Regions from separate parts of the Homo sapiens genome. Here region 1 is linked to region 2. Evidence: fine-mapped expression QTL. A gene starts in region 2. The other region holds a variant in brackets. All regions are shown on one strand. Distances are between the middles of the regions. Region 1 holds the start of OR2L8 (olfactory receptor family 2 subfamily L member 8). Region 2 holds the start of OR2L13 (olfactory receptor family 2 subfamily L member 13).

Region 1 (5,392 bases), 150 kb after region 2:
CCTAGACTGCATGATGTCATTCACTTCCTGTCCACTCTTTCCATCCTTCTCAGGACTGGCCTCACGGGCATATGCACAGGGTTCACACTCAAAGGGCTCCATGCATGGTTTCATGCTCTTCTGTTGTCATTGAAATATCTAATAATTTCATCTCTGAGTATGAATGTGATAGAGGAGCTAGACAGGCTGGCAGTGTTAGCACGCAGTTTGGGTCCACTGGTAGTGACTACACAAGTGGGCTCAGGCAACAACCACATGGGGCAATTGGCCTGGTCTTCTCATGCGCGCACGCGCGCACACACACACACACACACAAACACACACACATCTTGTAATACTTCACAGCACCACAGGACCCAAGCAGTGTCTGGGGTATGCCTGGGCTCATATTGATGGTGATGACAGAAGCAGCAGTGCAGGTGGCAGTAGGGTCCAAGTGTCCCTAGCTTGGAAGAGAGGAGGTGCTTGCCCTGGCAGCAGCAAGTGACTGCTGATGGGATGCCTATTTTCCCTCTGTCCCAGAGCCCACGCCTGTTGTATTCATTGAATATCAGAAAAGAAAAAGCCAGGAAGATTAGCAGTAAACATTGTTAGCAAACTATTACAAAATAAAAATATACACTGCTCATTGCAGCAAAACACAAAAAGGACTTACTCTGATTCATAAGACAAGTTCAAAATGTGTGTTTTAACTGCAACAACATTGCAAAACAAATATCCACAGGCTTAGAAATAGAAATGATGTTAAAGAGCATTTCAAGAATTTTAACTATGTAATACTTTACTGTTAACTTTAGTCATAGAAGAGAACAATAGAATTTATTTCTACAAAATACTGATGAAAGGAAATGAAGAAGAATACAAACAAATCGAAAGACATCCAATGCTTGTGGATTGGAAGAATTATTATTATTTAAATGACCAAACCTCAGATTCAATGCAATGTCTGTCAAAATACCAATGACATCTGCACATAAATAGTAAAAACAATTCTAAGATTTGTATGAACTATGAAAGACCCCAAACAGCCAAATCAATCCTGAAAAAAAGAGCAAAGCTGGAAGCATAACAGTAGCAAACTTCAAACTATACTACAAAGATGTAGTAATCAAAACAGAATAGTACTGGCATAAAAACAGATGCATAGAACAATGACACAGAACAGAGAATTCAGCAATAAATCCACGTATCTCTAGCTAACTGATTTAATTTTTTATTTTTAATCACTATGGATACATAATAGTAATATGTAATTATAGAGTGTATGTGATGTTTTGAAAAACACGTACAATGTGTAATGATCAAATCAGGGTAATTGGGATAACCAGCACCCCAAATATGTATCATTTCTCTCTGTTGGGAACATTCCAATTCCAAACTTTCAGTTATTTTTTAATATATACAATATATTCTACAATGAATTATTGTTTGCTACAGTCACTCTGTTGTGCTACCACATACTGGCTCTTATTCGTGCTATCTATATTTTTACAACCATTAACCGTCCCCACTTTATCCCCCCTCCCCTATACCCTTCCGATCCTCTGGTGACCACCAGTCTATTATCTATTTCTATTAGCTCAATTTTTAAAATTTTTAGGTCCTAGGTAGGAGTGAGAACATGCAAAATCTGTCTTTCTGTGCCTGACATAGTTAAATGATATCTGACAACAATGCCAAGAACATTTATTGGGAAACTGACAGTCTCTTCAATATAAGGTGCTTGTAAAACTGGATATCCATATGCAGAAAAATGAAACTAAACTCCCAATTCTTACACTATACCAAAATCAACATAAAATGGGTTAAAGACCTAAGTGTAATCATTCTTGATCACTGATGGCATCTTCCAATACTTGTTGTTGATCTAAAATTTACCTGATGTTAAATCATTTCCCTGGGATTCATTCCACTACAGAAAGCATAAACTTGTCACAGGCCATCCAGAGTGGTATCAGGACTTAAGAACCACTGATGAGCCTTCTGCTAAATCTCAGTAATAATAAGTCCCCCTAAATTGAAAGAAAGAGTAACTGGTACGTTAAGTGTCTAAGATAAGAAACAGAAAACATCTTATGGCTTTCAATTAGATCCACCAAGTCAAGAGATTTTTGGTTTTGTTTTAGACATAACCAAAAAAAAATTTTAATTACTGGAAAATAAATTGACAATAATAAAATTGTTATGCTGAGTGCCAACTTCAGTTAGGCCATTTTCATTTTCATTTCTGCATGACCAAAAAAAAAATTCTTATTGACAACATATTAGCAAAAATATGTACTTTCAAAATTTTTGGAAAAAGGCCATCAAGAAAAAAGGTTTCTTAGAATTATATATATATTTGTAAAACAATTTTGTCCATATATCAGTGATTTTCTTCTTCCGTTGGTTAGTTTTAGTCCTGCACTCTAGGAAGGACATAATATTTTAATTACTATACACTGCTGAATGGATGTGTATCTGAGTCCTGAGACCTTAGGCAGAAAGTGTTTCTACATTTTCACAGAGCAGATTCTCTGACTCACTCGTGTCAGGGCCCCCATCACCTCCTTGTTCCTCAGGCTATAGATGATGGGGTTGAGCATTGGGGTGAGGATGGTGTAGAAGACAGCCAGAACCTTGTCCTCTGTTGGAGATCGCAGGGATCTTGGACGTAGATAAGTGTAGACAAAAGGTGCATAGTAGAAAGTTACTACAGTGAGGTGGGTGCTGCAGGTCAAATAGGCTTTCTTCCTCCCTTCTGCAGATTTCATGTGGTAGACAGCAAAGAGAACCTGGCCATAGGAACATGAAATACCAATGAAGGGAAACACGAGAAA[G/A]ATGGTGGCACTCAAAAACACTGTGCCCTCATAGACCCAGGTGTCCATGCAGGCCAGAGTCACCATTGCTGGGACATCACAGAAGAAATGATTGATGGCCCTGGATCGGCAATAAGGAATATGGAGTACATATACAGTGTGAGCACAAGCATTGATCGAGCCTATGATCCAAGACCCTGTTATCATCAGCACACACACTCTTTTGCTCATGCGGATGAGATAGTGGAGAGGAAAGCAAATAGCAATGTAACGATCATAGGCCATAGATGCCAAAAGTAGTGCTTCTGCACCTCCTAATGCCAAGAAGAAGAAACTCTGAATCCCACACCCAGTGAAGGAGATAGACTTGTTTCCATGCAGAAAATCAGATGCCATCTTAGGAACAATGGTGGAGATGTAATTTAGGTCAATGAGGGAGAGCTGACTCAGTAGGAAATACATGGGTGTGTGGAGATGGGTGTCCAAGAAGATGAGAAGAATCATGGACAGGTTTCCAATTAGAGCCATCAGGAAAATGAAAACAATGAGAATGAAGAAGAAAAGGTCAATTCTTGATGGTGGAAACAGCCCCAATAAGATGAAATCAGTTGATGTTTGATTGTAATTTTCCATGGAGCATTCCTACAATCCATTCGGAAGGGAGACACAAGAGTAATTTACGTACAGTAATTCGCCCTTATCTGCAGGGGATGCATTCCAAGCCCCCCCAGTGGATGTTTGAAACTGCAGTTGATACTGAACCCTAAATACACTATTATTTTTGTCTATACATACTTCTGATAAAGTTTAATTAATAAATTAGACAAGTAAGAGATTAACAAGAGTAACTGATAATAAAATAGAACAATTATACAGTATACTATAAATATGTGAATATGATCTCTATCTTTCTCAAAATCTTTTATTGTACTGTACTCAGACTTCTTTGTTCTGATTTTTACCTATTTTGAAAAAAGAAATCTTATTTTCTTACCCAGAGTTTCACATTTGATGAGATCAACATTTGTTACTAGTTTTTTTCTGAGAAATATGTAAATTTATAAGAAAGATACCTCTATTACAACTTCAATAGAATATGAATGGTTTACTGCCTGACGCAAACTCAGATACATTCAAAGTCAAATATTATACTGAATACCTATGCATAGAAAGTCACTATAAATGCATACATTACAGATTTATATTTGAATAAATTAGTCTTACCTTTATAGAATGATCTGTTATATTTCCACACTTATTCTTTTTCTTTTTTTTTAAGTGACAGGGTCTCTCTCTGTTACCCAGGCTGGAGTGCAGTGGCAAGATCATAGCTCACTGCAGCCTTGAACTTCTGGGCTCAAGTGATCCTCCTGCCTCAGCCTCCTGAGTAGCTGCGACTACAGCCACGTGCCACAATGCCTAGTTAACTTTATACTTTTGTAGACATGAAGTGTCACTGTGTTTCTCAGGCTGGTTTTGAACCCTCGGCCTCAGTAATCCTCCTGTCTCGGCCTTGCAAAGTGCTGTGATTGCAGGCAACAGCTCCCCACCCAACCCATGTTTATTCTGTCAGATTTACTTCTAAAACTGCAGCAGCTTGTCTCTCATTTTGAGAAACTTGAATGATCTTTGTGCAATAATGCCAAGTCAAACTTCTTTTGTCAGTTATAATTTGGTCCTCCTATTTAGAAACCTAGAATAAATCCTTATTGCTATGTCCCTTTTACGGAAAGTCATATTAATCCACACTCTTGATTTTCAATATTCATCATCATCCATTCTCTTTGGCCTCCTCGCCTAATTTCAGAATACTCTATTTAAAGCAGACCCCTTACCAAATATGTTACAGATTTTGTCTTTTGCTTCTCTAGTGATTAGATAACATTACACATTGCTTTATGGATCCTTCAAAAGAATGCACTTGGAGGAGCATGCAATTGCCTAAATAAAAAAAAGAAACTAAAATTCTGACAGACTTCTAGGTAGAGGTGTGTTAGAAATTCCACTCCAGATGTAAGACATCAGTAAACAGCTTTGCACAGTAAGCCTAAAAGAACCAGAGTTTTTAGGCTTAAATATTAGTCTAGAGCCAAAGATCACCAGAATTTGGAGCAAGTATAACAACATGTACGAGGAAGATTCCCAGTGTGCAAACACACACAAATATGCACAATCACACACAGTCATATGCATAAATACACTGACTTTAAAATGATTAAAATATGCAGAAAGAATAGTTTTTTGTGATCAAAATTCCTTTCTTCAGAGATGTATGATCTGTTATGAAATCCATAAAATAAATATCATTTGCTATATGAAAGGATGTGACACGTAACATTAAAGAACTTTTGAAAACTAAAATTGTATTAATTGATAAAAATATTAAGCGGAAGTTTCAAAAGACAAAGTAAGAAAACTCTATTTGAAGGTAAACAAAAGCAATAACCACATGAAAAGACTGCTATTTAGGGAAGATAGAAAAATGAGGGGATTCATACAGGAGGACCAATATGTGCTTAAGGACATTCCTAGAAAGGGATATAGCAAAATAATAGTGAAGTTAGTATTCTTAAAAAAATTTCTCTCAACTGAAA
Region 2 (5,392 bases):
TTTGAGTTTAGGATCTATTTCCATTGATGTCCAGCAGCTTTCCTTGTTAGACATGGGACCTTATTTCATGCACCAGAATTACATGAAGCATCATTCTGTCGGTTACCTTATAGCTGGGAAAATGTTGTTCCTGTGGCTATCAGGTGAGTGTGAGATTAGTGACTGCCTTGGCCATCCTTGTTGACTTAAAGAACGACACTAAGGCAAAATTAATACAGAAAGTTTATTTGGGCCAAGGTTGAGGGCTGCAGCCCAGAAACACTTCTGTGGCAAGTAACCTGGAGAACAAGAAGAGACCCAAGTTTTTAAGGTAAAGAAAGGGAGGAATCAGGAGTGGAGACAAATTCTAAAGTTATTTATCAGCAAGTCTCACTGGTTTCAGAAACAACATTGATCAGTGATTGGTTATGCATTATTTAACTATAGGATATGTGGTTTAGGGGATTGATAGGTTAATTCATGGTTAGTTGCCACAAGTCAGTCCAGAGCCCCCATAGCACGTAGATTCAAGAGATGATTACCTAGCTCAAGAAAGAGTGAGATGTGACTGCGGCCACATTTCAATCTTGCTGGGCCTGATAATTTAAAGGGGGCTACTTATTCCTCAGATAAAAAGTTTATTTTCTTTCTCATTCTAAAAGATACGTTGCTGAAATTTATAGAGTTAAAAAACACCTCATTTCACAGAAACTAACAATGTAAGTGTAGCAAGTGTAGGGTCCTGAATTTATTTTGCAAAATTACAATTAGTGAATGCTTCTTAAAACTCTTTTAAACAATCAGCAGGAGACCAATAGCAAATAGTCATAGACTCAGCTCCCTCAATCTCAACAACGTATAGGACAACTATAAAGAGAATTCACAGTTCTGTGTGTTCAGCACATAGTAGGTCCTTAGTAATTGTCACTGTCCTTTGCCCATTCCCTGTGTTAACCATGGAGAGCCCTCACGCCCTGAGAAAATGTTTTTATTAATGTCACATTGTTTGAGAGCTGCACATAGTGCAACTCTAACAAGTTCATGTTACCTTTTTTTACATTTTTAGTTCACTCTTGGTTTTCATTTTTTTTTTTTTTGAGACAGAGTCTCACTGTGTCGCCCAGGCTGGAGTGCAGTGGCCTGATCTTGGCTCACTGCAAGCTCCGCCTCCCGGGTTCACGCCCTTCTCCTGCCTCAGCCTCCCCAGTAGCTGGGACTACAGGCGCCCACCACCACGCCCGGCTAATTTTTATTTTTGTATTTTCAGTAGAGACCGGGTTTCACTGTGTTAGCCAGGATGGTCTCGATCTCCTGACCTCGTGATCTGCCCACCTCGGCCTCCCAAAGTGCTGGGATTACAGGCATGAGCCACCTGGGTGCCCAGCCTTCTTTTTCAATTTGTTATGGAACTGTCTATTCCCTGTGCAGCAGAGAGTTTCCTGATGATAGGAAAACATTTCCAAAAAAGCTTTCTAGGATAAAGCCGACCCAAATCAACTCAATTCAGTTATATTACTATGACTCACTTTGCCCGAAGTTCTTCAGTTTATATAGTGGTATAAAAAGCAGTTTTATGGCCAGGCGCAGTGGCTCAGGTCTGTAAGCCCAGCACTTTGGGAGGCCAAGGCGGGCGGATCACGAGGTCAGGAGTTCGGGACCAGCCTGACCAATATGGTGACACCCCATCTCTACTAAAAACACAAAAATTAGCCAGGCGTGGTGGCATGCGCCTGTGATCCCATCCACTCGGGAGGCTGAGGCAGAAGAATCACTTGAACCTGGGAGGCAGAAGTTGCAGTGAGCTGAGATCGTGACCCTGCACTCCAGCCTGGGTGACATAGTGAGACTCCATCTCAAAAAAAAAAAAAAAAAGCAGCAGCTTTACAGTGACATCATAATCTGCAAACATTCCATATAATTATTTAAAACATGTAAGCATCAAACTATGTTCTGATAGTATATCAGGCTATCAATAACATTATATCACTGATCAATAGGCTCTGCATTAAACCAAAACTCTTTCTGAAGTGAGAATCTCTTCTTTATCTGCCAAAATTCATGAGGAAGAAACACCAGGTAACACTTTATAATATTCATTCCTTACAGCTCCCACAGCTAGTCATTGTCTTTATGGTGAAATCAGAAAACAACTTCACCAGCTCTTGTGAAATATTATCCTGTTTGCATATGCAGTGTTTAGATAAAGTCTCTTCCTTTCCTCTTACCTTGTTTCAGTGAGAACAGAATAAGGCATTTTACACTGAAGTCTCTCAGGTTCCACCATTGGAAGACAGAAGGATGAATGGCTATATTTTACACACAGAACCTTAAGTCACCAACCCTTAGATATTCCTCTTTCTCCTCTAATTGATCTCCAGTGTCCAAGTCCACGGGGGCCAAAACCTTGGTCACTTCACTTGACTTTGCTGATTTGGGGATGAACTCAAATTCTGAACTTAAAGCAAATCAACCAACCCAATCAACTTTGCTGCATTCAGCTGCTACCCAGAATCAGACTAAAGAGGGGTGTATTTAATATTCCAGTACATGATTTCAGAGCTATAGAAGATGTTAAATTATGTTTATGGAAATTCTGTCATCATGTAAGTTAGAGAATTCCGGATTAAAAAAGTGCAGGAACCACTTACAAGTACTCGACTCAGTAATAGCAGAACTAGTCCCAAGGATAGTTTCCTGTCCACTCTTTAGTGAGTTTCCAGGGGGAATGATTGATGATTGTGACTAAATTAAATTATACTAGGATAAAACACTTCCTTCTACTTGTTAGGTGGGGGTAGATAATTGATACATGACAATATATATCCATTTAGCTATTCTACTAAAGTGAAAGCTGACTCTTAGAGACAATGTGATAAAATGAGCATTTAGAGTCAGAGAGAATACTCTAGTCTGACAGCTATGCCACTAATTAGGAAGCTGAGTTGGGAAAATTACTTAAGATTTCAGCCTGTTACTAATCTTTACAACTGGACTAATTTGAGGGACATTCTAATAATTAAATAGAATGATGTATGCCAAATGTTTACATAGTGTCTGTTGCAGAGGAAGGGCTCAATCAACTGTAGCATCTCTTAACCTCTTTAATCCATACATTGGTTAACTAGAAAAGAACACTTTATTTGGGGTTATATTGTTCTTTTTTTATCTTTGAAGGCACTAACTGCTATATTTTATGTCAGAAATTAGAAATAATGCTATAAAATTAATATCCATGTTCTTTGTTTTTTTCCTTTAATTTTTTAGAATTATTATGATTATCTAATGGTTGCATATATTCATGAGGTACATGTGATGTTTCAATACAGGCATTCAATGTGTAATGAGCAAATAAGGGTATTTGGGGTACCTATTACCTCAAGCATTTATTAATTTTTTCTGTTAGAAATGTTCCAATTCCACTTTTAGTTATTTTGAAATATACAATAAATTATTGTTAACTATAGTCATCCTGTTGTGCTACTACATTCTAAGTCTTATTCATCCTAACTGTATTTTTGAGCCCATTAATCATCTCCAGTTTATTCCCCACTCTACTCTACTCTGCCGAGCCTCTGGTAACAGTCATTCTACTATATTTATTATTTTTTAATTTTAGCTCCCACATATGAGCAAGAATGCTCAAAGTTTGTCTTTCTGTGCCTGGCTTATTTCATGTAATATAATGGATAATGAAAATTTACTAGATACATAGAACACTATTCAACCATAAAAAAAAATAAGAGTGAATTCCTTTCATTTGCAACAACATGGATGGAACCGGAACTAAAGTAATGCTGGATTCTTGAATTATCTTGGCACCCTTTGTCCTAGGAGATGATGAGATGAGACTCAATAAATACTGGATGCAAATACGATGAAGTACGAAACTGGACAAAGCCATTCTAGTGCTTTAAATAAGAAGAGTGGACCAGTTATGATCACATACAGATTTTTTATTGCTCTTGTTAGTCTTTGGTAACTTCTATGTTTTTCCCTGCTGCAATGTGGTGCTGCTTGCATTTAACTCAGTGCAAAACTCAAACCCAGGTAAAACTCATTCTCAGCCTGTTACCGTCCCTGTAAGATCCATACACAGCAATGAAACGTGACTTGAGGAAAGTCCAATATATGATGATGCATCTCACCTCAAATTTATGACAATACATCTCAGATTTATGAATACAAATCTCATGGCCCTTTTGCCACGTCACAGTATGTTCTTGTTCTCTGCAGACTTTCTCTGAAAAGTAGTGATCCATGCCTCCTCCTGCTTTCCCCAAACCTTACCCCACTTCCACATCTCTTAGACTCCTCTGGGAAAAATAAACAAACCTGTTAATAAAACAATCAGATTTCAAACTTTTCTTCCATGAACTGTATCAGCCTCCCTCATTCTGTACCATATACTCAGCCTTGTTTCCTGTGACAGCGTATGAAATGACCGTGCTCCTGCCTAAACCCACTCTCTACTTTTGCACAAGGCTCAGCCCCTCTCAGCATCTCCTTTTTACATTTCCATTTCCATCTTCATCTGCACAGAAACATAAATTCTTTAGAGGAAAATATGGCTGTCAAAGATTCAATCATACTCCTTGGAGGCTCTGACCAAAGATTGAGCATCTTTTTCTTTCTGCAGAGATGGAAGTTACTCATTAACAAGTTGGAGCGGTGATGGATATTATAGACAAGGGGTTTCAGTAGGTGCGATCAATTAAAAAAAATCCAGGATGTAATGAATTACTCTGTGATGGTGTCTCCATGAAGCCTGGGAGCTTATAATGAGTTTAGAGATTCTTTACAATTTCTTAGTGACAATAAAGTTTTGGTTTAACCAGTGTAACCCTTCTAAGAAGACTGTGAGGCAGGTATAATTTGTGAAAGTCTGTTTTATAGACCAGAATGTGGTGTACTTTGATGAGTGTGTATTCTAATGTTGTTGAATGGAGTAGTCCACAGATGTGAAATAGATCCAGTTGGTTGATGGTGCTGTTCAGTTATATTCTTACTGTTTTCCTGCCTCTGGATGTATCAGTTACTAACAGAGGGGTGCTGAATATCCAACTTTAATTGCAGATTTATGTATTTCTCTTTTGTTGTCCTATATGTTTTTGCCTCATCTATTTTGACATTATGTTGTTAGGTACATACACATTAAGTATTAATATGTATTATGTAGGAAGTCTTAGCCAGAGCAATTAGGCAAGAGTGAAAAATGAAAAGCATTTAAACAGGAAGGAAGGAAGTCAACATATCTCTCTTTATAGATGATACCATTCTATATCTGGAAAACCCCATAGTCTCTGTCCAAAAGCTCCCTGATTTGATAAATAACTTCAGCAAAGTTTCAGCATACAAAATCAATGTACAAAAGTCAGTGTCATTTCTATACACCAATAGCAGCCAAGGTAAGAGC

What was found. PIP is the estimated chance that this variant, and not a neighbour inherited with it, causes the effect.
Region 1: its variant is the best candidate, but not a certain one, in a credible set for the expression of OR2L13 in prefrontal cortex (CommonMind, PIP 0.62).

What each region holds. Positions count from the first base shown.
Region 1 is chr1:247,946,897-247,952,288 of GRCh38, reverse strand. OR2L8 (olfactory receptor family 2 subfamily L member 8) reads right to left here and starts at 3,431. Exons shown (of 1, transcript NM_001001963.1): 1 at 2,493-3,431. The coding sequence starts at 3,431. The coding sequence ends at 2,493. It also overlaps a transcript of OR2L13 not described here. The variant G/A (reference allele first, on the strand shown) is at 2,820.
Region 2 is chr1:248,092,067-248,097,458 of GRCh38, reverse strand. It overlaps OR2L13 (olfactory receptor family 2 subfamily L member 13), which reads right to left and starts at 2,275. Exons shown (of 3, transcript NM_001395936.1): 1 at 2,205-2,275. LOC105373275 (a long non-coding RNA gene) reads left to right here and starts at 1,917. Exons shown (of 4, transcript XR_949369.3): 1 at 1,917-2,055.